Linked DNA regions of Homo sapiens. The protein of the gene in region 1 interacts with the protein of each later gene in a biochemical or structural test. Each region holds a gene or a part of one and is shown on either strand. Other genes may lie near its edges.

Region 1 (16,581 bases):
CCCAAAGTGCTGGGATTACAGGTGACAGCATGACTGGCCCCAATGGTATCTTAATAGTGGTGGAATATATTTAAATGGAACACTAAAGTTCCTTTTTTTTTTTTTTTTTTTTTTGAGAGGGAGTCTCGCTCTGTCGCCCAGGCTGGAGTGCAGTGGCTCGATCTCTGCTCACTGCAAGCTCCGCCTCCGAGTTCATGCCATTCTCCTGCCTCATCCTCCCGAGTAGCTGGGACTGCAGGCGCCCGCCACCACGCCCGGCTAATTTTTTGTATTTTTAGTAGAGACGGGGGGGGTTCACCATGTTAGCCAGGATGGTCTTGATCTCCTGACCTCATGATCCGCCTGCCTCGGCCTCCCAAAGTGCTGGGATTACAGGCGTGAGCCACCGCGCCCAGCCTGATTAAATCTTATCTCAGGATTCTGGGGAAGTTGGAATAGATTGCCTTGTGAGCAAATCCTTTCACAGTATTAGCGGTACCAGCACAGAATCTGAATGCTGGAGATGTTTTGTTGTTGTTGTTGTTTTTAGATGGAGTTTCACTCTTGTTGCCCAGGCTGGAGTGCAATGGCATGATCTCGGCTCACCTCCCGGGTTCACGCAATTCTTCTGCCTTAGCCTCTCGAGTAGCTGGGATTACAGGCATGTGCCACCACGCCTGGCTGGCTAATTTTGTATTTTTAGTAGAGACAGGGTTTCTCCATGTTGGTCAGGCTGGTCTTGAACTTCCTACCTCAGGCGATCTGCCCGCCTCGGTCTCCCAAAGCTTTGGGATTACAGGCGTGAGCCACCACACCCGGTCTGGAGATGTTGTTTAGAAGACTTCTATGCTGGGTGGGGTACTGGAGAGGACCCTCTAGTATTCACTGCAAGTCGAAAATTCTGCAACTGTCAATGGTTTAGGAAAGGCACTTACTATATTGGAAAGAATTCGACTTTGGAAGTCAGACTGACCTGGGTTTGACTTCATTCTCAGATAGCAACTATACAATTTTAAACATGTTACTTATCTCCTTGTGCCTCAGCTCTGCCTCTGCAAAAGAGGATGATCATCACTGCTTCAAAGAATTATTGTAAGAATTAGAGATAAGGCATATAAAAGCACAAAGTAAGCACAAAATAAATACTAAACATTATTTGCTCGTAACACATATAGTTCCTTTAATCTTTATGTAGTCATGTTGCTGTATTGGTTTTTATTTTCAAAATTGATTTACTGGATGGAGACGGTGGCTCACGCCTGTAATCTCAGCACTTTAGGAGGCCAAGGCGGGCAGATCACAAGGTCAAGAGATTGAGAATCGATTGAACCTGGGAGGCAGAGGTTGCAGTGAGCTAAGATCAAGCCACTGCACTCCAGCCTGGCGACAGAGCGAGACTCCGTCTCAAAAAAAAAAAAATTAATTTACTGTAAAATTCTGTCTTTTTAACATCTTTAAATATTCTATCTTAACTATAAGGTCAAGTGACTACAAACGAATGAAATTTTTTTAAAAACATTAAATTAACCATAAATTTACCTATTTAAATAAGCACTCAAAGAAATCACAGTCTTTTTTTTTTTTGAGATGGAGTCTCGCCCTGTCGCCTAGGCTGGAATGCAATGGTGCAATCTCAGCTCACTGCAACCTCCGCCTCCCAGATTCAAGCGATTCTTCTGCCTCAGCCTCCCGAGTAGCTGGGATTACAGGCTCATGCCACCATGCTCGGCTAATTTTTTGTATCATTAGTAGACACATGGTTTCACCATGTTGGCTAGGGTGGTCTTGAACTCCCGACCTCGTGATCCGCCTGCCTTAGCCTCCCAAAGTACTGGGATAACAGGTGTGAGCCACTGTGCCTGGCCAGAAATCACAGTCTTATAATTGCCAGGGACTTTAGAAGTCATCCAGTTGCATCTAACTCCTATTGCAGGAATCCTTTATTTATTTATGTATGTATTTATTTATTTTTTTGAGGAGTTTTGCTCTTGTTGCCCAGGCTGGAGTGCAATGGTGCAATCTCGGCTCACTGCAACCTCTGCCTCCCGGGTTCAAGTGATTCTCCTGCCTCAGTCTCCCGAGTAGCTGGGCTTACAGGCATGAGCCACCATGCCCAGCTAATTTTGTATTTTTAGTAGAGATGGGGTTTGAGACCAGCCTGACCAACATGGAGGAATCCTTTATTTCATTCTTTCATCCTGAAGGCTGCTCAATCTCTTAGCTTCTAAACCTCTTAGCCAGAAAAGGATGGAGAAAGAGAAGTCTTCCTGAAAGGAAGGAACTGGACTAGAAGAGAAGCTGCAAGTGCACCTGGGGTGTCAGTGCCTCCTTCTATCAGACCCACTGCACAGGGTGGTCTTCAGGTCTCCACAGAAAGCAACAAAGAAATCTTCTCTGCTTCTCTGATCTTTGGGAAAGCTGGAGGAGACTGATATGGACCATCCTTCTATATCCAATAAAAAGTACAAGAGAGCATTGGATTTCAGGGAATTTGTTTCCCCAAAAAGATCAGTTTTCTTCAAATACGATGATAATGACAGATACTGAAGTTATTCTGAAGTTCCTCTGTGCCATTATCAAGTACCTCAATAGTCTACAGCTGCAATCTATCCCATAACCTAAGACTAATATTCTCGAATCTGAAATCTGTGATGCCCATTGAACTCTACTCTTTAGTTCGCTGGACTCCCTCAATTGCCTTCGTGAAGGCTTCAAAGACATCACCTTCTGCTATATAATTAGGAAGTTCAAGGAAGCATTCTCTCCAGCATCAAAAGCTTCAGGAAATCCCAACAATTTAGGCTTAGCCTTAGACACAGTTCAGCGATAGTATTACTAAGACCTAACAGGCCAGGCGTGATGGCTCACGCCTGTAATCCCAGCACTTTGTGAGGCCGAGGCAGGCGGATCATGAGGTCAGGAGTTCGAGATCAGCCTGGCCAACATAGTGAAACCCTGTCTCTACTAAAAATACAAAAATTAGCTGGGTGTGGTGGTGCACACCTGTAATCCCAGCTACTCGGGAGGCTGAGGCAGGAGACTCACTTGAAGCCGGGAGGCAGAGGTTGTGGTGAGCCGAGATCTCACCACTGCATTCCAACCTGGGTGACAAAGTGAGACTCTGTCTGGAAAAAAAAAAAAAAAATCTCGCCACTGCATTCCAGCCTGGGTGACAAAGTGAGACTCTGTCTGGAAAAAAAACAAAAAAAAACACAAAAACCTAACAATCTCTTATTTTTTCAATTTTATATTATCCAAGCACTTAACAGACCTAATTGTTTTTTAATTTTTGGGGTGACAATCAAAGCTTGTCTGAATTTGAGGGATCCCACTTATTTCTTTATTTTTAATAATAGACTTTATTTTTAAGAGCTATTTTAGGTTCACAGCAAAATTGAGAGAAAGGTACAGAGATTTCCCATATACACCTGCCTCCACACATGCATGGCCTTCCCCATTATCAACATCCCATAGAGTGGTATGTTTGTTACAACTGATGAACCTACATTGACCCATTATTATCATTCGAAGTCCTTGGTTTAAAGTAGGGTTCACTCTTGGTGTTGTAGGTTCTGTGGGTTTGGATAAATTGATCATGACGTGTAGCCACCATTATAGTATCACACAGAGTAGTTTCTCTATTATAAAAATCCTCTGTGTTCTGCATATTCCTCCCTCTTTCCCCTCTATCCCCTGGCAACCACTTGATCTTTTTACTGTTCCCATAGTTTTGCCTTTTTCAGGATGTCATATAGTTGAAATTAACAGTACGTACTTTTCAGACTGGCTTCTTTTTTGTTTGAGACAGAGTCTCACTCTGTTGCCAGGTTGGAGTGCGGTGGTGTGATCTCGGCTCACTGCAACCTCTGCCTCCCCGGTTCAAGCGATTCTACTGCCTCAACCTCCCGAGTAGCTGGGACTACAGGCGTGCGCCAACCACGTCCAGCTAATTTTTGTATTTTTAGTAGAGATGACGTTTCACCATGTTGCCCAGGACGGTCTCAATCTCTTGACCTCGTGATCTGCCCACCTCGGCCTCCCAAAGTGCTGGGATTACAGGCGTGAGCCACCGCGCCCGGACCTCAGACTGGCTTCTTTCACTTAGTAATATCCATTCAAGTTTTCCATGTCTTTTCATGGCTTAATAACACGTTTATTTTAGCACTGAATAATATTCTATTATCTGGATGTACCACAGTTTATTTCTCCATTCACCTACTGAAGGGTATCTTGGTTGCTTTCAAGTTTTGGCAATTACGAATAAAGCTGCTATGAATATCTGTGTGCAGGTTTTTTTGTGGACATGTCTTCAACTCCTTTGAGTAAATACCAAGGAGTGTGACTGCTGGATCATATGGTAAGAGTATGTTTAACTTCATAAAAAATCATCAAACTGCCTTCCGAAGTGACTACCATTTTGTAGTCCCAACAACAACGAATAAGAGTTTCTGTTGCTTTGCATCCTCACCAGCATTTGGTGTTGTTTGTTTTCTGGATTTTGGCCATTCTAATAGGTACATAGTGGTATCTCATTGTTGCTTTAATTTGCATTTCCCTGATGACATATAATGTGAAGCATCTTTTTTTTTTTTTTTTTTTTTGAGATGGAGTCTCGCTCTGTCACCCAGGCTGGAGTGCAGTGGTGCGATCTCGGCTCACTGCAAGCTCCACCTCCTGGGTTCATGCCATTCTCCTGCCTCAGCCTCCGAAGTAGCTGGGACTACAGGCGCCCGCCACCATGCCCGGCTAATTTTTTTGTGTTTTTTAGTGGAGACGGGGTTTTACTGTGTCAGCCAGGATGGTCTCGATCTTCTGACCTCGTGATCTTCCTGCCTCAGCCTCCCAAAGTGCTGGGATTACAGGCGTGAGCCACCATGCCCGGCCTATGTGAAGCATCTTTTTATATGCTTATTTGTCATCTGTATATCTTCTTTGGTGAAGCTAATGTTTTTATTTATTTGTCCTGCTTCAGTTTATCACTTTTAATTTTTCAATAAAAAGAATTTTCCCTTACATATTTATATGCTTCACATTTAGAGTTGGTCATGATGTTGTAAGTTATAATACAAAAACAACTTAAATCAGTCATATACCAGTATCTGAAGTACTGGCTCTGAAATTCCCAGGTTCAAACTTTATCTTGTTCATTCTAGAGCCATTGATCCACATGGAATAAATATAAATTCATATCTATTTCTAGATATTTATTCACTACTCCCACTTATTCACTACCTAACAATAGTAGTGGTTAGCTATACATTTCTCTTCCAATGACAGAGCATAACTTCAGTATGCAAAGACAAACAAAAAAAAAAAGAAGAGTTTTCTGGATTAAGTTGAAAAATGTTTGTAAGTAAAATTTTAAAAATAGATATACCTTTGTCAGCTGGGTGTGGTGGCTCATGCCTGTAATCCCAGCACTTTGGGAGACTCAGGCACGTGGACAACTTGAGGCCAGAGAGTTTGAGACTAGCCTGGCCAACACAGTGAAACCTGTCTTTATTAAAAATACAAAAGTTAGCCAAGCATGGTGGTACATGCCTATAATCCCAGCTACTGGGGAGGCTGAGGCGTGAGAATCTCTTGAGTCCAGAACGAGGAGGCTGGTTGCAGTGAGCCGAGATCATGCCACTGCACTCCAGCCTGAGTGACAGAGTGAGACTCTGTCTCAAAATAAATAAATAAATAAATACAAATAGCTATATCTTTGTAAGTGAAAAATTCATAAATAAACCATTTATAAGCCAAGGGATGAGTACAGATACTCATTCCTTTGAGTACTTCATTTGAATCTATGAAGGTGGGTAAAGTCGCTCTGAGAGAGTATGAGCAGTGAAAAAACAAAGAGTGCCCGGGACCTAGACCTAAAAAATGCCAACATTTAGGAGATGGACAGATAAGCTGGAGCTAGCAAAAGAGACAGAAGTTGCCTGTTAGAGACTGCTGGGTGAGGTGAGCGATACACAAGATAAGAATGGTATGGCCGGGTGCGGTGGCTCATGCCTGTAATCCCAGGACTTTGGGAGGCCAAGGTGGGCAGATCATGAGGTCAGGAGATCGAGACCATCCTGGCTAACATGGTGAAATCCCATCTCAACTAAAAATACAAAAAAATTAGCAGGGCATGGTGGCATGTGCCTGTAGTCCTAGCTACTTGGGAAGCTGAGGCAGGAGAATCTCTTGAACCCAGGAGGGAGAGGTTGCAGTGAGCTAAGATGATGGCACTACACTCCAGCCTGGGCAACAGAGTGAGACTCTGTCTCAGAAAAAAAAAAAAAAAAGAATGGTTAACTTTCTAGGCTTCGCGCCATGGTTCACACCTGTAATCCATCTGCCAAAGCAGGCAGATTGCTTGAGCTCAGGAGTTTGAGACCAGCCTGGGCAACATGGTGAAACCCATCTCTACCAAAAATACAAATAATTAACTGGGCACGTGTCTGTGGTCCCAGCTACTCCGGAGGATAATGTGGGAGGACTGCTTGAGCCTGGGAGGCAGAAGTTGCAGTGAGCCGAGATCGCGCCACTGCACTCCAGCTTGGGTGACAAAGTGAGACTCCCTCTCAGAAAAAAAAAAAGGTTAACATTCTAATGGTAAATATAATTATGAAATAAATTTAAAGGGGGAAGTGATCCTGAAGAGGCAACAAACACTGTGCCAAAGAACAGAAGGTTGTACTCTCACTAGATATATGACAATGGACAGGATATATAACTTTGCCCTGAGCCTCAGTCAGTCAACTCCTCCAGCAAAAGGAGAGATAAGAGTTATTTCAATAGGCTGTTGTGAGAATTTATCAAATTAATACATTTGAATATACATTGTAGGTGGAAAGACATTACACAAACTTAAGATACTTGCCTTGGCTCTCTGCCTAGAACTTAGATTGCTCCAGGACAGAGGCCCACCCTACCCACTTTTCTCATGCTAGTCTTCTGTCTGAATCCTGACCTCCCTAATTGTTTCTAGCTTTTTTTCTGCTGGCTAATAGGACCTTAGGAACAATTGCCTCCTGCCTAAGCTTTATAACAGCACAGTTGCTGGGCTCTAACTAAATCACTGACACCATTCCTGTCTTCCTGGCCAACCCCACCACCCATGAACCCAGGTTATGATATGCTCCAAAGTATTGTTTCTTTTTCTTTTCTTTTCTCTTTTTTTTTGAGAGGGAGTCTTGCTCTGTCACCCAGACTGGAGTGCAGTGGCACAATCTCAGCTCATTGCAACCTCCGTCTCCTGGGTTCAAACGATTCTCATGCCTCAGCCTCCGGAGTAGCTGGGATTACAGCCACACACCACCACGCCCAGCTAATTTTTTTTCTTTTCTTTTTTTTTTTTTTCTGAGAGGGAGTCTCACTCTGTCGCCCAGGCTGGAGTGCAGTGGCACGATCTCGGCTCACTGCAACCTCCATCTCCCAGGTGATTCTCCTGCCTCAGCCTCCCAAGTAGCTGCGATTACAGGCACCCGCCACCATGCTTGGCTAATTTTTGTATTTTTAGTAGAGACGGGGTTTCACCATGTTAGCCAGGCTGGTCTTGAACTCCTAACCTCAGGTGATCCACCCACCTCGGCCTCCCAAAATGCGATGATTACAGGTGTGAGCCACCATGCCCAGCCTTAATTTTTGTATTTTTAGTACAGATGAGGTTTCACCATGTTGGCCAGGCTGGTCTTGAACTCCTGACCTCAGGTTATCACCTGCCTCAGGTGATCCGCCATGTTGGCCAGGTTGGTCTCGAACTCCTGATCTCAGATGATCCTCCTGCCTCCCAAAGTGCGGGGATTACAGGCTTGAATCACCTCACCCAGCCCCAAAGTATTGTTTCTGAGACAATCCCAGAGCTAACTACTGAGATTAACAACCCACACTTAGCTTGTTCAATAAAAAAAATTTCTTAAGAGTTGAGACCAAAATATTTTGTTTCTTAAATGGTGTTTACAACAAAATATATATACATAGTAAATCATCAGTTTCCTTCAACCTAAGTTCTTGATTTACATAAACGATTAGGCAGGCCCAGCTCGATGGCTCACGCCTTTAATCCCAGAACTTTGGGAGGCAGAGGTGGGCGGATCACCTGAAGTCAGGAGTTCAAGACAAGACTGCCAGATTTTGTTCTCTACTAAAAACACAAAAACTAGCTGGGGGTGGTGGCGGGAGCCTATAATCCCAGCTACTAGGGAGGCGGAGGCAGGAGAATCGCTTGAACCTGGGAGATGGAGGTTCCAGCCTGGGCGACGAGAGAGAAACTCCATCTCAAAAAAAATAATAAGAAAATTAAAAACAATAAAAGCTTTTAGTTTTTCAAATAGTCTCAAAAATTGTTTAATGCTACGTTGATAGTATCTAGATAGTGTCAGAAAGTCTTCTCTAATCTGGTAAGATATCTATGTCTTTTATTTGAAGATTCTTTGATCAAGTTATTTTCAGAGAAAATAATTAAGAATTTTAATTTACCAAAAGGTCTATATAATAATGAAATTGCAACTTGCTTTATCAATTTCTTATTTATTTATTTTTAATTTTTTTTGAGACAGAGTCTTGCCTGTTGCCTAGGCTGGAATGCAGTGGCATATTCTCAGCTCACTGCAACCTCCACCTCCCAGGTTCAAGCGATTCTCCTGCCTCAGCCTCCGGAGTAGCTGGGACTACAGGCACCCGCCAACAAGCCCGGCTAATTTTTTATATTTTTAGTACAGACAGGGTTTCACCGCGTTAGCCAGGATGGTCTCGATCTCCTAACCTCCTGATCCGCCCATCTCGGCCTCCCAAACTGCTGGGATTACAGGCGTGAGCCACCGCGCCCAGCCTTAATTTTTAAATTAGTGGATTTGCTCTAAATACAATACTATAATCCTTTTAGCCAATTATTTTGAAAATACTTCTATAAAACAGTCCTTTACCTTGATCTTTGAAATCTGGGAAGGGGCTGGGAACGAAAGGGAGGAAGGGCACTATGTGAACGTCCAGTGACACATCAAAGTTTTGTGCTTTTTGTGTGTGGGTTTGTTTGTTTGTTTGTTTTTTGTTTTTGAGAAGCAGTTTCGCTCTTGTTACCCAGGCTGGAGAGCAATGGCGTGATCTCCGCTGACCGCCACCTCCACCTCCCGGGTTCAAGCAATTCTCCTGCCTCAGCTTCTGGAGTAGCTGGGATTACAGGCACCCGCCACCACACCCAACTCATTTTGTATTTTTAGTAGAGACAGGGTTTCACCATGTTGGTCAGGCTGGTCTCAAACTCCTGACCTCAGGTGATCATCCCGCCTCAGCCTCCCAAAGTGCTGGGATTACAGGCATGAGCCACCACACCCGGCCACTCTGAAGTTTTTAAGACCCTAGAAAAGGCTTTGTGCTTCACCATGTTCTACTCAAGCACAGACAGAAAATGAATAGTTACTTATGACCAAGTATTATAATAATGTCATAGCAGCAATTCTTGTCTCCATAATAGGAACTTATATGTCAAGATAAAATAACTTCAGGTCTTTTACATTTTACAGTGGACTAATAACTTATATTGCTATTTTTAAGGGATGTCAGTTTTCTCTAAGAAATTTAATTACATTTGCTCTTCTCCCATCATCAATCCCCTTTCCAGGCCTAGTTTACAAAGAAAAGTGTAAGAGAACCTGCAATGACTTTACCTGAGTTCTTAAGCAGACTACCAGGTTACCTACTTTAAGGAAATAAGCCTGGCTCCTTTGGCCATGGGGATGGTTGGAACTCAGACCTGGGTGAGTTTTCAAGATCCGTTATGATTGGTTATATGCTCCCATAGCATTCTATGCTTTTCTTTCAAAATATTTACCAGTTCATAATTATATATTATATGATAATATCTTTCTCCCCAAATGACAGTAAGATCCATGAGAACAGGGTAACATCTTTTTTTTTTACATGAATGTATATCCCAGCACCAAGTTAAGTGAGTGCCTGGAAAGTAGCAAATGTGCAAAACTTTTTTTTTTTTTTGAGACAGAGTCTCGCTCTGTTATCCCAGGCTGGAGCACAGTGGCACAATCTCGGCTCACTGCAACCTCCACCTCCCCAGCTCAAGTGATTCTCCTGCCTCAGTCTCCCGAGTAGCTGGGACTACAGGCACCTGCCACTCGCCTAGCTAATTTTTGTATTTTTAGTAGAGACAGGGTTTGGCCATGTTGACCAGACTGGTCTCCAATTCCTGACCTCAGGTAATCCGTCTGCCTCCACCTCCCAAAGTGCTGAGATTATAGGCGTGAGCCACCACACCTAACCAATATCACATTTTGAGCACGACCAACTTTGCTCATTATCTGTTTTTTTGTTTGTTTGTTTGTTTTGTTTTTGAGACGGAATCTCATTTTGTCACCAGGCTAGAGTGCAGTGGCATAATCTCTGCTCACTGCAACCTCTGTCTCCTGGGTTCAAGTGATTCTCCTGCCTCAGTCTCCCGAGTAGCTGGGACTACAGGCACGCACCAACATGCCCAGCTAATTTTTGTATATTTTTTAGTAGAGACAGGGTTTCACCATGTTGGTCAGGACGGTTTCAGTCTCTTGATCTCATGATCCACCCCCCATGGCCTCCCAAAGTGCTGGGATTACAGGTGTGAGCCACCACGACTGGCTACTCATTATCTTTTTTACAGAGGTTGGTTTCAGGCCAAAGTTGACCTTCCCTAATGACTATAGAGCAAAGCCCTTTGGCATGTTATATTAGAAGCATTCTCTTATATATTCTGTGTTTAGCAATTCAGTTTGTCTTTGGAGTGCAAGTGAAAATTTAAAATATAAGAAAACAAAAATAAAACAAAAACCTTCTTAGAAGTATATCCCTTAATCTGTTACACCAGTAATATGAGACTTTTTTTTTTTAAACTTTTCCCTTTCACATGGTGTGAGCCATCTGAAAAAAAGAGGGGTCACCTGATGCCATGGTAGGGTTAAGTCAATAGTTTTCAAACTTGTGTATGCATCAGAATCACCTGGAGGACTTATTAAGCCACAGACGGCTGTGCTAACCCCCAGTTTGTGACTCCACAGGTTTGGTGCTGGGGCCTGAGAATCTGTATTTCTAATAAGTTCCCAGGTAGTCTGGAGACCACATTTTGAGAACCACTAGAAAATAGCTGCTAAAAAGGAATCTTGGTATGTTTAGGTCCAATACCTGCAACATTCTTGATTGAAACAGTCTCAGAGAAAATTATAAATGGGTGATAGAGAAGATGAATTATCAGAAGGTGACATAATATTATGGAATACACTATTCAATAATGAGCTTGCCTCATTACCCTTAGACTTTTTTTAAAGTATGCTTCTTCAGGAATTATCTTGTTTCACTCACTATAACTCCAATTCTAGAGAAAGAAAAAAATTCAAGTTAAAATTCAAGTTATTTTTGTTCTCAATAATAATCACCTCCATTGCCTCCCTGCCCTTCAGTGCCCTGGGCAAGCCTTTTTAGTCATTGTTTCTTTATCTGTAGAAAGGGACATGATAATAGTACCTATCTCAGTGAATTGCTGTGAGGATAAAATGAGACCCTAAATGGAAAATAGTTGGCACTGAAAATGGCCTGTAAATGGTAGCTGCTATTTTTTTTTTTTTTTTACTAATTCATCTGCTAATTTAAGGAAATAAATTGCAGTGGTCGTGGGACCAGTGACCCAAACTACTTAAATCTCTAATACATTAATTGATCACAGTAATAAACCCGAATTTGTTAAAAAACAAAACAAAAGGTTGTTATGCTCCAGGTACTTTGCTAACTGTGGCGGAGAACTGTTTGATTTGGCAGTGGTGGCTCAAGCTATCAGTATAGCATTCCCCCAAATACAGATTATAAATAAGGACCACCTGAAGCGCAATATGGGCCCCCCCCCACCCCCGCTCCCACCCCGGAACAACCAAAACCATATCCAGGGGAGATGCGTAGGAATCTTTAATCACCCCAGGTGATTTTTTTTCTGATTACCAACTTTGAGAAACACTGAAGGGACCTCTTCTCCATTCTATATGTGGCTAATATAAACCCTAAACATCATTTCTATGTATTCGTTAGACCGTTGTTTACTAGAAAATTTCAGAAGTCCTTTCCGACTTAGTAATTTTGTTATTTTGAGTTGAACTGAAATTCACTTGGAGCGGTCAGTTGAAAATGTTTTTTGTTTGTGCTCTGAAAAGGTTCCCAGTGTTCCGGGTAAAGTCATCCTTTCACCCATGGGGGACCTGTGCCTCGTGCCTGAACTGCCCGCCTAGTACCTCCCCCCTTGAACTTCCTCTCGCAAGCCTCCTCCTCCCGCTTCATCTGGGCCTCGGGTCTAGCTTGTTTTGTCCCTTCGCGGCTTTTGAGTAGAACATTTGGTGCTTTCCCAGTTCACGACGCTTTGCTGGAATCGTCAATTTCCAGGGATTTCACAGGCTGGCCAAAACAGTTTGTTCAGAACAGCGCCGCCGGGGCATTGGCAGCCCTGGGCGGCCGCGCGTTTCCTCACTCCGCACAACCACCCGTGACCTTGGGCGAGCGAACGCACGCCGCCAGCTGCGTCAGGGCCACGCTCGGGCTGGACTTCGGAGCTCAAAATGGGTGTGGGGAGTGAGGAGGTTTCATAAACAGAAAAGACCTCGAAGCCATAAGGCAATTCTTTTCCTTTTCTGGGGGTGAATCCTTACGATTCTTGGGGGAGGGAATGTCTGCCCAGGGCTGGAGACAAAGCGTGAGAACTAGGATGGCGAAAAACGGGTTTGAATGAGAAAATCCGAAGGAGGGAGGCTGAGGGCGGACAATTGGGTTAAAAATAGAAACGCATCCTCCACAGGACTCGCTCTTCCCAGCTCCACCCTAGGGGCCGACTGCCAGGCCAGTGGCTGGGCTCCGCGAGAAGGCACAGCAACCCGTCTCGGCCCCGCCTCCTGGACCTACTGACAGGGCACCGGGGGCGTGGCCTTGGGCCCGCGACGTCACCGCGCTCCCCGCCGCCGCCGCCGCCGCCGGGGTTTTCGCTGACGCACGGGTCCCGCCCCCTCCCCCTCTTTTCCCTCACAGCCCGGGCGCCGGGCGGCGAGTGCGTTAGTCGGCCGGGACGCGGAGCTGTGTGCATCTCCTACGCGGGCTCGCTCGCTCCCGGGAGCCGCGCAGCTTCCCCGGCGGTGGCAGGAGCGGCGAAGAGCGCCATCAGCGGGCCCTTACGGCCCCAGGCCTCGCGGCGCGCGGTCCGCTCGCCCTCCTCGTCCGCCCAACCTGCGGCCTGTGGAGGCGTGAGGCGACGACAGGCGAGCGCCTCGAGCAGCGTTAGCCGCTGCGGCCGCCGGTCCTCCCTCCACCTCCTCCTCGGCCCCCCCTCGCTTCCCTCCTCCCACTTCCCGAGCTCCGGCGTGTCCCGGCCACGCTCGACGCTGCTGCAGGAACAAAGGAAGACCCCGCGGCGGCGGCGGCGCCACCTCCGCCTGCTGCTCCGACCCGCTCCCGGCCCGCGGCGGCGGCACCAGGGCGCCCGGCTCAGCCTTCCCGGAGGCCTCGGCCCGGCCTCATCGTGCCGGCTTCGCGCGCGAACCCGGCTTTCGCATTTGGGACCCTGCAGGGTGAGTGATACGGGGCTGCGGGTGGGAGCCGGGCTCCTTGTTGCCGGGCCGGGGGCGGGAGTGAAGGGACCGGGGCGCCGCGGGCCAATGGCGAAGCCGGAGCAGGCCGCGGATGGCGGCGTCCGGGGGAGGGGAGCCCGCCCGCCAGCCCAGGAAGCACAAAGACGGAGGCGTCATCCTGTCGTCGTGGCCCGAGACCTGGCTCCCGGCGTCCCTGGCTCGCTCCACAGCACGGTCGGGAAACAATGCACGGCGTGCCGCCTCTGCGGGGCCGGCCTCTAGGCCGCTCGCCTCCGCGGCGGCGCCCGGCGTGGGCACCACGACCCAGAGAAACAAAGAGGCCGAGGCGGCGGCCGCGCCCCCTGCCCGTTGCAGCCCCCCCTAGCTCTCCCCTAAGAGGAGCCGTTCGGGGTCGGGGGTCGGGGGTCGGGGATCCGCGTGGGGCCTGCAGGCGAAGGGCTGGCCGGGCCTGCTGAGCTGCTGTTCTGCATGACTCAGTGGTTTTCGGAGAGGGCCCTGTTGGGCTTTATTGAGTGAGGCCTTTGCTTAGAGGGGGATGGGGTATCAGTGGGACCCGAACTTGTTCCAAAATCCATTGGAACATGGGGCCGGGGGTTCTCGGCGTCGTCTTTTGGGCTTCTCGACGTCGCTGCGTTTTTATCCTGAGATCCGTTTTCATGGAGGAAATGGAACACCTCCTTTGTTTGGTGCATTTAGGCTGATGAATGTGAAATTTTTTGCTCGCTTTCCACGCACTCCGTGGAGGTGTGTTTTCGGGGAAGGGTCGGATTATCTTTATTGATTGAGTGTCTCCTAAGGGATAGCATCTAAGGAGATACCAAGATAAAGGAACATATAGGTCACACATCCCCGTTCTTAAACCTGGGATTTAGATACAGACTTCTAAAAACATAAACGAATGTATTTTATTCCTTATTTTTAGGATTTTTTTTAAAGAGTAGGCTTTCAGAACTCAGTTGGTGAAAATACTGCAATTTTATCTTTGAAGTTTTTTGTTAAAATGTTTCCCCACACCCCCCTAAAAAATTAAGGATTCTTTGTAGTTGTCTCCTGTTTTCTATCTCCCAGGCCCTGAAAAGGAGCCTTTAAAAGTCAATTCTACTCCATTTGGCAAAGAGGGAACTGAAATCTGGAAAGTAAGGACTTGCCCAAGGTCACTGACTTAGTGGCAGACTAGAGACTTGAACTCAGGTCTCCATTCCCAGGTGAGTGGGAATTCATGCCATCTCATCACATCATGTGCACCTGAAAGAACTGTATTCCATAGGTGTAAAAGCTCTTTGTTCAGAATTGGAATTGGAGAATTGTTCAGTTACACTCGGGTGTTTTTTTAAGCTGTAAGTTAGAGGAAGCCATAAACTTTATAAAATCTGCATTCTAGCTATACCTGATAGAGCTGACACGTGCATGCTCAAGTTGCTAATTACTTTAAAGGCAATAAATAGTAATGGTATTTTTTTCTAAAATACAAGGGGAATGCAATACCTAATGGGAACACACATCCCCCACTTCATCCCCTAAATCCTCACTAAATGAGGATTCTTTTTTACACTGTCTCCACTGTGCTTAGTTTTTTATCAACAACCTTGACCATTTTAGCTTTGACTATGCTTTCATCTTCTAGATTGAGATTGTTCTGTAGTTTTTCCTACATTAGGAAAAAACTAGCAGCCCTTTTTTTGTTTTCTTATGTTAGATATATGAACGCTGCATCCTTAGTTCTTGGGGTTGTGTAGGAGTTGGCAGGCTTTGAGATATAAATAGAAGCTGATTTCAGAGGCCCCTGTTGACTAGGCTTTATGTGAGAGCCTCCATCCAGCTCAGCTTGTCACATTGCAGCCTTGTGACAGGCTGAAGCGCCCTCCCATGTGATCTGAGCTTCTGAGAAATATTAAAGCAAGCTGTGCACATGTGATGGCATTTAAAAGCTGGCTTTCTAGGGGAAAAAAATCTAAAAGATGGGAACCCATGTAGAAGACTCATGTCCTGGTACCTCTTGTGTGTCTCGCAGTTGAAAGTTATTTATAATGAAATGAAGGTAGACATGTTCTCTGAAGCAAAGTTGGAATACTTTGTTATCTCTGAGTGTGTGAAATCTTTAGATGGAGTATCCTCCATTTTATCTAAAACAAATATTTTAAGAATCAGATTAACTAAAATTACTTAGGTAGGTTGATCGCTTGGCCTTAAACTTTAAAGCCAATGTCACATGAGACTGGGCCTCAGTGTAGAAAATGTAAGCTAGCATACTTAAACTGGTTTTAAGGAGTGACCCAACTTTCATGCATAGGGCAAACATTCACACATATTTTGTGCGTGGTGGGCATGCAAATACATACATATTTATCATTTGAAAGCATTTTTTGCTCCTATTATGCTCATTTAAAAACCCAGCTGAAAGTGTTTATTAATAAACTTCCTAAGTGATGTTGAAATGTTTACACTACCCTGCTCCAAAATGAGTCAGCTAAATTCCAGTTAATATTTAAAGAGACAGTGTCAACTAAATTAATACTGTTGTTAAAAGTAAGTTGTGGATCTTGGTCACTCCACACAAGCTAGATTGTCTTAATATTTGTATGGTGCACTTTTACTTACAAAAGGGAAGATAAAATGTTTTGGGGAATAATTACCAGGGGTCTGGCCAGGTCAAAATTGGTTAGTCCCCTTCTCCCATCTTCTAATTTTGGTAGTTAATACTTGTTAAAACATCGTTTTTTAATAACTCACTAAAAAGTGTATTCTAGTATGTAGTTGGAAAAAATGACTGACCACAAGTTACAGCACACGAATTTTCCTTTAAGCAAATGCTCTCAAATATGCTTTTTGTACATATGCTTATACATGTTTAAGATGACATGAAAACCCTCCACAACTTTATTTTAAAATAATTTTTCTTTAATATGTATTTTCTCATCCAGAGGAAAACTTATTAATAATTTAGCACAGCGTTTTAACAAGACTTTTAGAAAAGCAAATCTTCCTTGGAAACAAATGCTTGCTATGTAAAGCTTTTTCTGGT
Region 2 (16,221 bases), about 35 Mb from region 1:
CACCCAGGCTGGAGTGCAGTGGCACAGTCTCAGCTCACTGCAACCTCCGCCTCTTAGGTTCAAGAAATTCTCCTGCCTCAGCCTTCCAAGTAGCTGGGATTACAGGCGCCTGCCACCATGCCCAGATAATTTTTGTATTTTTAGTAGATACGGGGTTTCACCATGTTGGCCAGGCTGGTCTCGAACTCCTGATCTTAGGTGATCCGCCTGCCTCGGCCTCCCAGAGTGCTGGGATTACAGGTGCGAGCCACTGTGCTGGCCTCTCTAGTTCTTTTTACAAGTCATTTGCCTTTGGACTTTTAAGATCTAAAAAGTATCACATTGCTTATGGGTATTTTTTTGAGATTGTATAATTTAACTAGGAAACATGATTTTAGGAGTCATAGTGTAATGATTAGGTGTGGAGACTCTTGACTGTCAGCCTGTGTTTGTATCTCTGCACCATGACTTAATACTTTTACGAATTTTTTTTTTTTTTGGAGACAGTCTTGCTCTGTCGCCAGACTGGAGTGCAGTGGCGTGATCTTGGCTCACTGCAATCTCCGCCTCCGGGGTTCAAGCAATTCTCCTGCCTCAGCCTCCTGAGTAGGTGGGACTACAGGCACGTGCCACCATGCCCAGCTAATTTTTTTTGTATTTTTAGTAGAGGCGGGGTTTCACCATGTTGGCCAGGATGGTCTCGATCTCCTGATCTCGTGATCTGCCCGCCTCGGCCTCCCAAGTGCTGGGATTACAGGCGTGAGCCACCATACCTAGTCTTTACCAAATTATTAATCTCTCCAAGCTGTACCCTCCTCATCTTTTAAAGGAGTTGAAATTAAACCTTTCTTATGAAGTAGTGAGAGAGAACTAAATGAGAAACACCATGTTAAAATAGTGCAGTTCTGATTTTTTGTAGCTCGTAATTTCGTTTGTATTGATACTGATTTCTGTATCTGGGAATTAGGTTACTGAACATGTATTGCTACTTGAGTTGCTTTGTGCTCGAATTATATCAGTAGATAAGAAAATAAATAATTAAAATTTATTGTTTTATGGGATGGGAAAAGGAAAGTCATTATTTTAAGCAAGATATCAAATGCTTAATCTGTTTGTGATATTTGGGGGTTTTTAGCTATTAAACACCTTTATTTTTGAAAATTCTGCAGAAAAAAATTATTCAACAGATACTCGGTTTCAGCTGTGTATCAGGGAAACATGCAGAATGACATGGTTTCCTGCACAGTCAAACTTGCATTCAGTTGGGGCAAGAAAAAAATAATGAAACATTAAAAAAAAAAAAAGATAAGTGATATTAACACAAAGGGCTTCCCTAAAGAAAAAACAGAAGGCTACCTAGGATGACTAGGCAATGCCTTTTAAATATGGAACTGAAGCATGTTGAAGGAACTGGCCATCTAAGATGGCTGGTGTTGTGTAAAGGCCCTGGGGCAGGAAAAGGTGTGGCCTGCTGAAGTAACACCGGGAAGATGAGTGTGGTGGGTGGAGGATTGTTGAGGGCTGGGAGCCAGAAATAAAATGAGGGGTTTTGCGCACACGCGTGCGTGTGTGTGTGTGTGTGTGTGTGTGTTTACTTGACTTTTGCAACTGGCTGAAGAACAGATTATAGATATGGAGACAAGAGTTGGAAACAGGGTGTAATCCCATCTAGAGACTGTTGTGGGCTTGTCTTCAGTGATGACAGTAGAGAATGAAGAGATGGGTTTGGGGTGTAATTTAGAGATAGGACCTACCAGGTATGCTGGTAAGTGAGGTGTGGAAGGAAGAGGAAAAGGAACTGAAATCACCAGGGTTTTTGTCCAAGTGCTTAGGTAAATAGAGGTGCCATTTGTTTAAAGAGAGCAGACAGACAATGGTGGGACACATTTGAGAGGGAAATCTGAATTGCAATTAGTTGAGGAATGAGTGGAATGTGAGAAAGTGGACACATGTTCAATAGCTATGGCTGTGATGAGAAGACAGCAGATGGTTCCTCAAAGAGGAATTAGGATGAAGTCAAAGGTGGGAGGTGTGTTTTTGTTTTAGAGTGAAATATAGGACATAGTTAACTACTGACCCAGGATAATTACACAGAGGGGTAAAGATGTTGGTGGAGAAGAGGGAGGATAACCAAATCCAGTTTGGTTTGAGTGTGAGGCAACAATAAAGGTAATGGTCCCCAGAACACAAGCAGAAGAAAGGATAGTTTTAAGTGAGGTAAGTTTATGAGGAAAATAGGTTTCATTTATTCAGAGTGTTGTCTGTATTGAGAGGAGGGAGCATAGGAGTCTGTAAGAAGTGACTTGGAATATTAGCGCTTTGGGCATTTTACCAACTTTGTATAGTGTACAAGATTTTAACTTTCTAGCTCCTAACCTCTCTTTCCCCCGTTTCAGTTATATAAGGTATCAAAGGGAAACTGTGAACTTGTTCCATCGGAGTTGATGGTTTGAAATACCATCCCTTCCCCAGCATGTTTTCAGAATTTGGTGTCTCTTCTTACCAGTTGCCTTCCCTGACCTCCTGCTAATTCTCCCTTACCTTCATACCTCATTTTTCTATTGTACTCTGAAACATATTATATGAGTTTCCTGTTGCTACTGTAGTAAGTTACCACAAACTTATTGGTGTAGAACAACACAGATTAACTGTCTTCTAGTACTGTAGGTTAGAAGTGTGACACAGGGCTCACTGTACTAAAATCAGGGAGCCGGCATTCCTTTTTGGAGACTCCGGGGAAGAATTTTTTTCCTGATCCTGTCCTACCATACCTTGGCTGGTAGCCCCTTTCTGCATCTTCAAAGGCAACAGCATAACATCTCTCATCCTGGTTTTGTCTCCTCCTCCTCACACCTGTTTCTCTGACCCTCTCATCTGCCTCCTCCTACTACTATTAAGGATTCATGTCATTACACTGGACCCACCTGGATAATCCAGAATGAGGTCTCTGTCTTAAAGTCAGCTGATTAGCAACCTTAATTTTATCTATAACCGCAATTTCCCTTTGCCTTGTAACCTATTTATAGGTTCCAGGGATCAAACCAGAGGGCATCTTTGGGGGACCATTACCTACTACATATATGTTGTAATTTATACTGTTACTCATCTTTGTATTCCCAGCATAGTAGTTCCTGAAATGTTGTATACATGAATCAATAAATGTATAGAGAATGCTTATTTATTAAATGTTCCTTTTTTTCCCCTCCACCCTCCCTTTTTAGTGACGGGTCAGTCTTACGAGAATATGGTAACTGAGATCATGTCAATGGGCTATGAACGAGAGCAAGTAATTGCAGCCCTGAGAGCCAGTTTCAACAACCCTGACAGAGCAGTGGAGTATCTTTTAATGGTGAGAAATATGTTTTACTTTACTCCATTCTGTTGTTTAAGATTAAAATCTCAAAGAAACAGATTTTAAAGGACCAGTTCACTTGTCACTGATATATGCTAGATGATATACATAATGCTTTTTTTTTTCTAGTATGTTTGTATTTTGTGTTAATAAAATGTAACCTTTTTTAATCTAATGGTCCAACATTGTAGTAGCTTTTTAGGTGCCACTATGCGTGAATTATTCAGAACAAAAATTTCTTTTTTCTTTTTTTTTTTTTTTTTTTTGAGACGGAGTCTCGCTCTGTCGCCCAGACTGGAGTGCAGTGGCATGATCTCTGCTCACCACAAGCTCCACCTCCCAGGTTCACGCCTTTCTCCTGCCTCAGCCTCCTAAGTAGCTGGGACCACAGGCGCCTGCCACCATGCTCGGCTAATTTTTTTGTATTTTTAGTAAGATGGGATTTCACCATGTTAGCCAGGATGGTCTTGATCTCCTGACCTCGTGATCCGCCCGCCTCAGCCTCCCAAAGTGCTGGGATTACAGGTGTGAGCCACCGTGCCTGGCCAAAATTTCAAGCTTGAGAATCCGGGCCAAATTCTTTTGCTTATACTGTGTATATTTCTGTAATAAGTTGCCAGCTTTTTAAAAACTGGGAAATTTCACATAAAAGTACAGATTTCTGGTTTAACTGGACAACTTTGATCCCAGATTTTTGCAAGGGATTAAGGAAAATATTTTAGATCGTGGAATCTAATTCATTATCCTCTGATTCACTCTGTTACCAACGTAACATCATGCATTTAATGAATGATGTTACTACCTGGTTCCGTTGGCATTTGAATTTGTTTTTATAGTCAGTAGGAGTTGAGGGACTTTTTGAATAAAGTATTCTTTTTTTTACTGGTAATGGGAGTTTTTGAGAAATAGGTTGTTGTGGACATCAACTGAAACCCTTGGTATTAAGATGAAAGTCTGCTAGTTTTACAGATGTGACACAGGCTAAAGTAATTGAATTAAGTTTTTTAAAATCTCAGACTTCTATAATTGTCTGGTGTTTTGGAGTATTATCAAAGTCTGAATTGCCCTAAATATCATCTTAAAGTTGCCTGATTCTAACCCTTTTGGGAATTACATCCACAGTTTAACCCATTCCTTTGTGTCTAGGTTGTACTTCTGTTAAAAACTCCTTTCAGGTAGCTAGCTAGTTTCAGAAGAGTCAGTTATAAGCCTCATAACTGTACTCTGCCTCCACCATTTATTTGCCTATGCCTTTGCATGTGAAGTTCACAAAACCTTTTTCTTAGCATATTATTTTATCTTTTTAAATTCACTTTTTCATTATCTTCTTGAGTAGTGTCTTTAAATGCTGGCAGTTTATCCAGTTTGTTTGGAATTGTGGAATTAATAATTGTTGTGAATTTGTTTGGTGAGGAGTGTGTACCCTAAACAGATTGTATAAAAGTATTAGCTTTTATGGAGTGGCTTTCATTTACACCTGATTTAGAATTCTGTATAAGTTCAACAGTATCAGTTATTTTGATCTAATAGATGTGGAGTTTTGAGGTATAAAAATACAGAATCATTGTTACCAAATGCTAAAACTGCTGTAGAGCATCAAATGCAAATAAATAGATGATACATGAGTTCATCAAAAACAATTTATAACTAAAATGTTTTTTATATATTTGCTCTTTGTTTCATAGACTGAAGGGGAAAAGTTGCTTTTAACTGTTACTAGTTAAGAGATAGGTTAAGGTGAACGGATGGAAAGAAGAAATGTTGAGCATTTATATAAGAGGCTATGTAATGTGTGAGAATAGAGGTCGATCTATAGCAATAAAGATGAACTTTTTAGTTTAATAAAAGAGAATTTGATGGACGCCCTGGATCCTAAATTTGTATGTAGTTTGTTAGCACTTAAATAACTGCCCATCTGAGTTAAGGGTTTGCGTTGGTTAACTCATTCAAAAACATTGGTTTTAATGCCTGGAGTGACATCTAATCCATGCAGCCATTTTCCTGCTGTGTTACTCTTCATCCTTTATATGTTGTTGCTTTTGGCTTCTGGTTTATTAGGGAATGGAAGCATTTATCATCTTATTCAATTGTAATACTTGGTTCTTTATTCTCTTCAAAATCTATAAGAACTTGATAAAGACTTTTTAAAAATTTTAAATGACAAGTCTATCAATCATGTGCATCAAAATAGGTGTCCCAAAAGAGTTTAGTGCATGCAGTTTTAAGCTCTTAATAACTTTAAAAGATAAGTACTATAAACTTACAAAAGGCATCACCTAAAAACTAAATGGTTTCAATTTCTTTTATATCGATTTTATGAATTTTGAAAAATTAAATTTTTTGAGATACTTTATCTCATTTTTTGAGATACTTTAAGTATCTCATTTATGAGATACTTTAAGTATCTCATTTATGAGATACTTTGACACTTTAAGAAACACTTCACTGAAAAGTACCTCAAATTTATGAGATACTTTCTGAGTGACACTTTCTCAGTACCATGGATCAGTAGGGGAGATCCTCCTGCCTGGCCACTGTGTACCTGGTCTGTATCCATTAGATATTTTTTCCCCCAGGAGTCATTTCAGAACTGTCAAGTGTGCATCAAAACCTCTTTTTGGATTATCTTAAGCTAGAGTTGCAAACTCAATCCTTTTTATCACTGAGTAACAGCTGATAAAGATTTCTAAGAAGTTAAAAAGTCAACTGAACTAATAGGTAGCACAAAAACCTTTGGTTGTGTTCAGTTTTAAGAAGGTACATGTATCAATATTTTTCAAATTTGATGCTAATTACGTGTGCCTGGTAGGTGTCTTATTGAACAACACAGAGAATATTTCCATCATCATGGTAAGTTCTGTTGGACAGTGCTGCTTTGCATTATTATAGCAATGTGGGTTTTTCTATAATGCACCCAGGTCATTTCTAATCTAATTTGAATCCATGCAGCTTAATAATCCTTTACTTTTAATTGAAGCAGACATCTGTTTGATGCTTTTGAAAATCAAACAAGATGTTAAATAGACTATAAATCTTTTACTCTGTATAATATTTAATTTTGCATGATGGGATATCTTAAAGCTTGGAAATTCTATTACAGGGAATCCCTGGAGATAGAGAAAGTCAGGCTGTGGTTGACCCCCCTCAAGCAGCTAGTACTGGGGCTCCTCAGTCTTCAGCAGTGGCTGCAGCTGCAGCAACTACGACAGCAACAACTACAACAACAAGTTCTGGAGGTAAAGCGGAATCTTCTGGATGGGGAGGGAATGGCCCTGAATTTTTAGTGTAAAATAATTTAACCTGAAATACTTCAGAAATGACGTTCATTCCCAGAGCAGTCGAATAATTCGTTAAGTTCTCTCTTCACTAATGTTTGAGAAAGGCCCAAAAGAAACTTTCCCAAGTGGATGTAAAAGGTATCCTTGCTGATATTAAACATCAGTGTTGCAGTTTTGCCGAAGGGCATATTCTGTTTTATTTGTTTTAAGGAAAAGATGCTTTCCAGTTTGTATTTAGTGTTACTTTCTGATGCCATTCAGAATGGTTTGCTCACTTTGTCTCTTACTCTCTCCATAAATGTTACAAAGTGTATGTAATTTCAAAGCCAGCAGGATTTTAGTAATTATACAGCCAAGGAAATGAAACCGTGAGAGGTTTAAAACCTTGTATCTAGAGGAGAAAGCAAAGCTTGAATTGAAGTCTCTTTACTGGGGTGCTGACCATACCCCACACATTGCTATAGGTCTGACTACAGAGCAAAGCCTGGAACCTGCGGTCAGCTTAGGAATTACGCAGTGTTCTCCTTCGTTCGTTCTTCTGTATATTAATAAAGTAATTTAAACTGTTGATCTTGAAAAGGCCATTCTTCCATGCATTTCCTAGCTCTGATAATGATAGTCACCTCTGGTTGACAAAGGTCACTCAGTGCTTTGTGTACAGTCTCCCAAGGACAGGCCCTTTGTTTGTTGTGATTCAGCATATGGGAGTGGAAAGAGATGACCACAGCTCTGCTTTGGATTTGGGGTCCTGTTCCTTTCAGCACTTATTAGGTGACATAGTCTCTAAGTCTCGTTGCCTTCACCTGTAAAGCTGGTATTATATATGGAAGAACAAAAAACCCATGTGCTGTGGTCATTTCAATTGGAATGATTGTCTTCCTGAATAGGAAATTACAACATACATCTAAAAATTCTCTTTTATTCATTAGTAACCTCAAAAACAATTCCTGTATGTACGATTTTTGGTTTCCTATAGCATAACCAGACAAGTACCAGCACCCTGAAAAAGCCAGAAGTTCTGTATTTTATATTTTATTTGGCATTATTAACATTTATTATTGTGAATGGATTTTAGACTGAAGAGTTTAGATATATTAGTACTAGATTGCCATACAGCTTATTTATCCGAGTTTTTGTAGTTCACAAATGTTTGAAAATTAATGGTAATAACCGGAAGTCTTCCTTAATGTAAGTTTGGATTAAAGTTTCTCCTGATTTGCAAAACCTGACCTCAGACTTTAAATATCTTTTTCTTCTTTGGTTTCTTGAATTCCTAGGAATTCAAGCTCAGATTGTGTTCTTTTAGGGGTTTTCATTGTTTATAAAGTAAGTGAGTTTTTGTTTTTGTTGTGGTGTATATTTTTCTTAGGAACTTTTAAGCAACAGGAACAACTTTTAGTACTTTTTATTTTGATAGAACACACACAGGAGACAAGTTTCTAGTATTATTTTATAACGTTGAGTGCCAAGGGCAATTATAGGAAAGTTTGGTTCATATTACAGTCAGCGTTCTGCACTCCCTGCCTTTGCTAATAGGAGTAATTTTTGCCGTATAAAACTTGCAAGTTGGTACAGTTGGAAGATTTCATCATTATTTACTTCATTTTATTACATCTGAGAACTCAAATCATTTTTTCTTTGATAGTGTTTGCTGTCTAAATGTATTATTTAACCACTGTTTGTGTATGTATTTACTGCTTTTGTTTAGAAATGTTTATGTGTATTTTAGGACATCCCCTTGAATTTTTACGGAATCAGCCTCAGTTTCAACAGATGAGACAAATTATTCAGCAGAATCCTTCCTTGCTTCCAGCGTTACTACAGCAGATAGGTCGAGAGAATCCTCAATTACTTCAGGTGACTAATCAGTGTCAGTTTCACAAGTGATTTAGAGTGTGTCACAATTTGAAAAAGTCCATGAACGGTCCTTCCCCTCCTCAAATACAACTCTGTATTTGAGAATGTGAATGTTTTCTTCCAAGCTACACTTAGATATTGTAATCTAGATAGGTGTACTAAAAAAACAGTTGGGATATGGAGGTTGGGTTAAATTAAGTTGACCAAATAGTAGTAAGTTTGGGAAACATTTTATATTTCCTTTTTGGAGATTCCCACTACACATTAATATGTTAAAGAATTTGGGAAGCTGTTTAACAGAGAAACTGCCTAACTTTAAATCACTTTTCACAAGCTTATTACTCAGTTCCTTTTTCTTAGGAACTTTTAAGCAACAGGAACAACTTACTCTTAGAAAAAATAGCTGTGGGGCTTCTTTAGTGATCAGATCACCAAGTATTTGAATTTTATACAGCATTTTAATGCCCACTAGTGTGGAAGGTAAAAAATACATGCAAGTATTAAGAATAAGTTCTATTCTTATAGTCCCACAGTAGTTTTTTTTGTTTGTTTTTTGTTTGTTTTGTTTTTTTAAGCACAGGAGGCTCAGAGCACTTAAGAATTTGAATTTCTTCACTGTTTACTTTGCCCAAAAGTACTGAATTTCTTTACTATTGTATAAGAAATCACATCCTTCCAAAGACTGAATAATCCAGAATCACTAAATTACGTTTGCAAAAGTGTAGCCTTTTCTCTTAGTAATATTTAGAATTTCTCTGTTCCTGCAGATACTTAATATCAGTGTATTATTTTTCTCTGTCCTTCATATCACCACAGCAAATTAGCCAACACCAGGAGCATTTTATTCAGATGTTAAATGAACCAGTTCAAGAAGCTGGTGGTCAAGGAGGAGGAGGTGGAGGTGGCAGTGGAGGAATTGCAGAAGCTGGAAGTGGTCATATGAACTACATTCAAGTAACACCTCAGGAAAAAGAAGCTATAGAAAGGGTGAGTTTAAGTAAAACTTTAAAAAAATTAGTTCTTGGCTGGGCTCATGCCTGTAATTCCAGCACTTTGGGAGGCCAAGGCAGGTGGATCACCTGAGGTCAGGAGTTCAAGACCAGCCTGGCCAACGTGGTGAAACCCCATCTCTACTAAAAATACAAAAATTAGCTGGCGTGGTGGCACATACCTGTAATCTCAGCTACTTGGGAGGCTGAGGCAGGAGAATTGCTTGGACCTGGGAGGTGGAGGTTGCTGTGAGCCGAGATTGTGCCACTGCACTCCAGCCTGGGCAACAGAGTGAGACTCTGTCTCAAAAAAAAAAAAAAAAAAAAAAAAAAAATTCCTTAGTCACACTAGCCCCATTTCAAATGCTCAGAAGTCACATATTAATAATAAGGTTTTTCTATAATTTCTTTCAATAGTGTCCTGTAGTTTTCAGTGTAGAAGTTGTGTAATACTTTTGTTAAAATTATTTCGAAGTATTTTTATTCTTTTTGATGCTGTTATAAATGGATTTTTCTCTTAATTTCATTTTCAGACTGTTCATTGCTAACTATATAAAAATACAATTTAATTGTGTATATTGATCTTTTATCATAAAACCTTCTTGAACTGTTATTTATTCATTAAGTAGTTTGTGCATGTGTTCATTAGGATTTTCCATATACAAGGTCATGTCATCTGCACATGGAGACAGTTTTACTTCTTTTCCAATATGGATACCTTTTATTTCTTTGTCTTATTTAACTGCCCTATCTGGAGCCTCCAGTATATTATTAGACTAGCAAGAACCAACAACATCCTTGTCTGGTTCTTGATCTTAAGGGAAAGCATTCAGTCTTTCATCACTAAGTATGATATTATCTATGGGTTTTTTGTGGATGCCCTTTATCAGATTGAAGAAATTCTCTTCTGTTACTAGTTTGTTCATCACGAAAAGGTGTTGGATTTTGTCAAATTTTTTTTCTTTCTTTATTAAGATGATCATGTGATTTTTGTCCTTTAGTATGCTTTATTACATTGATTGATTTTGTATGTTGAACCAACCTTGCATTTCTGAGATAAATTTTACTGGTTACAGCATATGATCTTTTTTATATGTTGCTGGATTTAGCCTGCTTGTATTTTGTTGAGGATTTTTGCATCTGTTCATAAGTCATATTGGTCTGTAGTTTTTTTGTGATGTTTTTGTCTGAATTTGGTGTCTGGGTAATACTGGCCTCTTAGGGTGAGTTGGGAATTATTCTCTCCTGTTGTCTGGAAGTATTTATTAAGAATTGGTGTGGGCTAACACGGTGAAACCCCGTCTCTACTAAAAATACAAAAAAAATTAGCCAGGCGTGATGGTGGGCGCCTGTAGTCCCAGCTACTCGGGAGACTGAGGCAGGAGAATGGCGTGAACCCGGGAGGCGGAGCTTGCAGTGAGCCGAGATTGCGCCACTGCACTCCCGCCTGGGCCACAGAGCGAGACTCTGTCTCAAAAAAAAAAAAAAAAAAGAATTGGTGTGAATTTTTTGAATAGTTGATAGAATTCACCAGTAGTCTGGTCCTGGGCTTTTTTTGGGGGGAAGTTTTGTGATTATTGATTCAGTCTCTTGTTACTTGTCTATTCAACTTTTGTATTTCTTTTTTTTTTTTTTTTTTTTTTTTGAGACAGAGTCTCGCTCTGTTGCCCAGGCTGGATTGCAGTGGCGTGATCTCCGCTCATTGCAAGCTCCACCTCCTGGGTTCACACCATTCTCCTGCCTCAGCCTCCCGAGTAGCTGGGACCACAGGCACCCGCCACCATGCCCGGCTAATTTTGTTTTGTATTTTTTTAGTAGAGACGGGGTTTCAACATGTTAGCCAGGGATGGTCTCGATCTCATGACTTCGTGATCCACCCGCCTCGGCCTCCTAAAGTGCTGGGATTACAGGCGTGAGCCACTGCACCCGGCCAACTTTTCTATTTCTTTTAGAGTCAGTTTTGGTGGTTTTTGACTTGGAATTTGTCTATTTTATCTAAGCTGTCTAATTTGTTGGCGTGCAATTGTACATATTTCCTTATAATCATTTTATTTCCTCTTTTGATAAAGTAATAATGTTCCTGCATTTATTCCTGATTTCAGTCATTTGAGTCCTAAGATATTTTTGTTTTTTCCCTTCAGTTTAGCTAAAGGTTTTAATTTTGTTCATTTTGTGGTGGTTGTTGTTAATGACAAAAATAACTTTGGGTTTTGTTGATTCTCCCTATTGTTTTTCTAGTCTTTTGTTTTGTTTTGTTTTAAGTCTCTCTAATGTTTATTTCCCTCTTGCTTGCTTCTAGTTTGTTCTTCCTTTTTTAGGTTAGGTTTAGTTTAGTTCTTTGTTTAGTTTTAGTTTAAGATTAAATTATTATCTATCTTTGTTAGCATAGATGTTTATAGCTATAATATTCCTTCTGCGTTTATGCTATAGTAGCATCCCATAAGTTTTAGTATGTTGTATTTTTGCTTTCTTTCATCTCAAAATGTTTTTTAATTTCCCATTTGGTTTCTAATTTAATTCATTCGTTATTTAGGATTGTGTTAATTTCCACAAGTTTATGAATTTCCCACATTTTCTCCTTTCGATTTCTAAATTCATTCCATTATAATCAGAGAATATACTTTCAATACTTTTCAACTTATTGAGGTTCGTTTTGTGGCCTAACATGGTATTTCTGAAGAATGTTCTATGTATACTGAAGAAGAATATAGTGTAGTTCTTATTAAGTGGTCTATAAATATCTGATAGATCTAGTTTGTAGTCAAGTCTTCTTCCTTAGCTGTTTTATCTATTATTGAAGGTGGAGCTGTAGTTGTCTCTATTATTGTTAATTGCCAATTTCTACCTTTAATTCTCAGTTTTTATTTTATGTATTTTGTGGCTCTGTTATATATAATTGTTGTGTCTTCCTGAACCCTTTTTATCATAAAATGCCTTTTGTCTATAGTAACAATTTTTATCTTAAATCTGTTTCCTCTGATATAGCCATTCTAGCTCTTTTTTGGTTACCATTTGCATAGTATATACCTTTTTCTATCATTTTACTTTCAACCTACTTGTGTCTTTGAATCTAAATTGTGTGTTTTGTAGAAGCAGGCAGTTGGATTGTACCCTTTACTTCACCTATCCTAGCTTTAATCTGGATAAAACCCAGATAACAAACTGATTTTTTAGTTTCTTCTGCTTTCATAGATGAATAGTTATTCGTGATGAATTGGGATTTTTGCCCAAATTTTAAGGGTTATTTCCAAATATAATCTGACACAGCAGTCTTTAACCTTTTTGGCACCAGGGACCAGTTACGTAGAAGACCTTTTTTTCTACCAACATAGGTGGGGTGGGCGCAGTGATTTTGGGATGAAACTGTTCCACCTCCGATCATCAGGCGTTAGTTAGGTTAGGAAGTGGGGTGGGGCGGTGGTTTTGGGATGAAACTGTTTCATCTCACATCATCAGGCATTTGTTAGGCTATCATACGGAGCACAGACCCTAGATCCCTCTCATGCACAGTTCACAGTAGGGTTCATGCTCATATGAGAATCTAATGCCGCCACTGATACAACAGGAGACGGAGCTCAGGTGGTAATTCGAGTGATGGGGAGTGGCTGTAAATACAGATGAAGCTTCACTTGTTCGCCCACTGCTCACCTCCTCCCGTGCGGCCCAGTTCCTTGCTCACCCACTGCTCACCTGCTCCTGGGCAGCCCAGTTCCTAACAGGCCAATGGCTGGTGCCAGTTCACGGTCTTGGGGTTTGGGACCTGTGATCTAACTCAAGGTGATTGAGACAATTGAGGAGGGTGACATTTGGCTGAGTTTTTAAAGGCTTTTAAAAGGAGTGAGTATTGTCACAAGTGATTTTTAATATAATAGACTAGGAAAATGAAATTAAGTAGCTGGTATTACCATTTAAAATGCTGTAACTGTTAAGCAGATAAAAATAGAACATTATCTTCAAAATGTACCATGTATTACTAATAATTGGTCACCTGTTTTTCTAGTATGGAGTGTTGAATAAAGCAAGGAGATTGAGAGTGATGTTTGATCCAAATGAAAGACATGAGTTGACATTAATAAATAAAACATAATTTGCTTTTAATTTAGAAATAGGTGAGGTGGTTAAACTATACTGCAGGTACTCTCATCCTTATCTTCACTCTTAATATACTAAAAGCCATTTGATTTACATATTTCTGTAGAGTCATTTATTTTTAAACCATAGCAGTTAGCAGCTAATTTTTAATTAGGCCAAAGAGTATTTGCATAGTATCTATTAAGCTTTAACTAGAAACAAAGACTTTTTTAGGTGATTAGTAAAGGAAAGGGTCTAGATTCCATCTAATCCCTTGGGTTGGGCAGTAAATCCATATTGATAGAGATGAATTCATGTAAAATTCTCAAGAGCTTTTTTGGGTTGCAGTATGTTTTTGAGTAATGATTTATCTTTAGTGCTATGCTGGAATCTATAATATGTAAATAAAATTAAATGTGCCATAATTGGTGTGTTGGATTTATATTTTTTTCCTTTTTCTTCCAGTTAAAGGCATTAGGATTTCCTGAAGGACTTGTGATACAAGCGTATTTTGCTTGTGAGAAGAATGAGAATTTGGCTGCCAATTTTCTTCTACAGCAGAACTTTGATGAAGATTGAAAGGGACTTTTTTATATCTCACACTTCACACCAGTGCATTACACTAACTTGTTCACTGGATTGTCTGGGATGACTTGGGCTCATATCCACAATACTTGGTATAAGGTAGTAGATTGTTGGGGGTGGGGAGGGAGGGATCTAGGATACAGGGCAGGGATAAATACAGTGCATGTCTGCTTCAATTAGCAGATGCCGCAACTCCACACAGTGTGTAAAATATATACAACCAAAAATCAGCTTTTGCAGGTCTTTATTTCTTCTGTAAAACAGTAGGTAACTTTTCCTAGGTTTCACTCTTTTTAGTGTACTAGATCCAGAAACTTAGTGTAATGCCCTGCTTTATATTTCTTTGACTTAACATTGGTTTCAGAAAGAATCTTAGCTACCTAGAATTTACAGTCTCTGTTTCATGGCAACACTGGATAATGGCTTTGTGAAATTTAAAAAATTTTTGTAGCGACTGTAAACAGAAATGCCAAATTGATGGTTAATTGTTGCTGCTTCAAAAATAAGTATAAAATTAATATGTAAGGAAGCCCATTCTTTCATGTTAAATACTTGGGGTGGGAGGGGAGAAAGGGAACCTTTTCTTAAAATGAAAATAATTACTGCTATTTTAAAATTTCTTGATCATTGAATGTGAGACCCTTCTAACATGATTTGAGAAGCTGTACAAGTATAGGCAGAGTTATTTTCCTGTTTACATTTTTTTTTTGTTTTGGGGAAAAAATTGGTAGGTGTCTAATTACTGTTTACTTCATTGTTATATTGCAGTAAAAGTTTTAAAACAACCATTGCATGTTTGCTTTTGATGTATCCCTTTGTGAAATTAGCACTTTTGGGGCCAATGGAGAAATGCAGCATTCACTCTCCCTGTCTTTTCCCCTTCCCTCAGCAGAAACGTGTTTATCAGCAAGTCGTGAGTCAAACTGCTGCCTTTTAAAAAACCCACAAAATGCTGATTCAGTTCAAAATTAATGCAAATGTTTCAAAACTGGGTTTCTGATATTTGTAAATGTGTTTCTTTATTAGATAAGAGTGTATTACCATTAAAGTCATTAGTATAATATTGCTTTCAAAAAGAAATGGTAGACAAAACTATAATCCAGCATCTTTTATTGCATTGGAAAGACTGGCAAAGTCTTTTGGATGGGTTGGGAGATGTGGCTGGAAAGTACTTTGGAAAATATACAATCAAGATATCTCATGGCATATTAAAAGAAAAATCTTAATAGCAGTGTTGGCTTTTATTTGGATTTTTTCATCTCAGTTTTTTCTGTGGAATCTCCTTCATTGGCATTGTTATTTAATCATAAACGGGGCAGATGTCTACTTGTTCAGTTTTTCAAATCTGTTTTCCTGAGTATAAATAAGAGTATTTAAAGAAATAATTTGGATTGCTTTTGTTTTTTGTTTCCTTTTTTTTAACCATCTGATACTAAGAAGATGAATTTGCACAGATTTCTCTGCATAATTTCTCAATATCTTTAGCACAGTATGGTGATGATGACTTTTAAGCATTTACATCACGTACTCATAACCTATTATGAAAATAAATGAAACTGGCTGGGTATGGTGGCTCATGCCTATAATCCCAGCACTTTGGGAGGCCGAGGTGGGCAGATCACTTGAGGCCAGGAGATTGAGACCAGCCTGACCGTCATGGCGAAACCCCGTCTATACTAAAAATACAAAAAATAGCCAGGCATGGTGGCGCACGCCTGTGGTCCCAGCTACTTGGGAGGCTGAGGCATGAGAATTGCTTGAACCCGGGAAGTGAAGGTTGCCGTGAGCTGAGATCACACCACTGCCATAAACATGACAGGCTTTTGGACTTTGTATTACCTGTATGTTTTATAATGGATCATGCATAATTTCTCAGGAGAATAAAATGAGAATTCATATATACGTTCATCTTTCAAGTCAGAGCAATGAGTTGGGAAAAGAGGTGGCATTTCTGATCGGATAATGGAATACTCTCATTTATTTTATGACATTCTCTGTCTACTCAGATCATAGTGAAAACTGGAAACAAAAAAAAAAAACAGCCTCTTCTTGGAAAGTGACAGCAGAAGGTGGCATGGAGCTTGTGTCCTTGGACAACAAATCTGGATAT

The links.
Region 2: the proteins of ZFAND5 (region 1) and RAD23B form a complex in vitro, tested with the Homo sapiens proteins (one study listed by BioGRID).

Annotation. Positions count from the first base shown.
Region 1 is NC_000009.12:72,361,653-72,378,233, reverse strand, and holds the start of ZFAND5 (AN1-type zinc finger protein 5), read left to right. Parts: upstream 1-13,025; 5' UTR 13,026-13,538; intron 13,539-13,641; exon of another isoform or gene 13,642-14,627; 5' UTR 14,628-14,764; intron 14,765-16,581. UniProt on the Homo sapiens protein: Involved in protein degradation via the ubiquitin-proteasome system. May act by anchoring ubiquitinated proteins to the proteasome. Plays a role in ubiquitin-mediated protein degradation during muscle atrophy.
Region 2 is NC_000009.12:107,315,552-107,331,772, forward strand, and holds part of RAD23B (UV excision repair protein RAD23 homolog B), read left to right. Parts: intron 1-3,200; coding exon 3,201-3,328; intron 3,329-6,431; coding exon 6,432-6,567; intron 6,568-8,338; coding exon 8,339-8,466; intron 8,467-9,282; coding exon 9,283-9,453; intron 9,454-13,991; coding exon 13,992-14,105; 3' UTR 14,106-16,221. UniProt on the Homo sapiens protein: Multiubiquitin chain receptor involved in modulation of proteasomal degradation. Binds to polyubiquitin chains.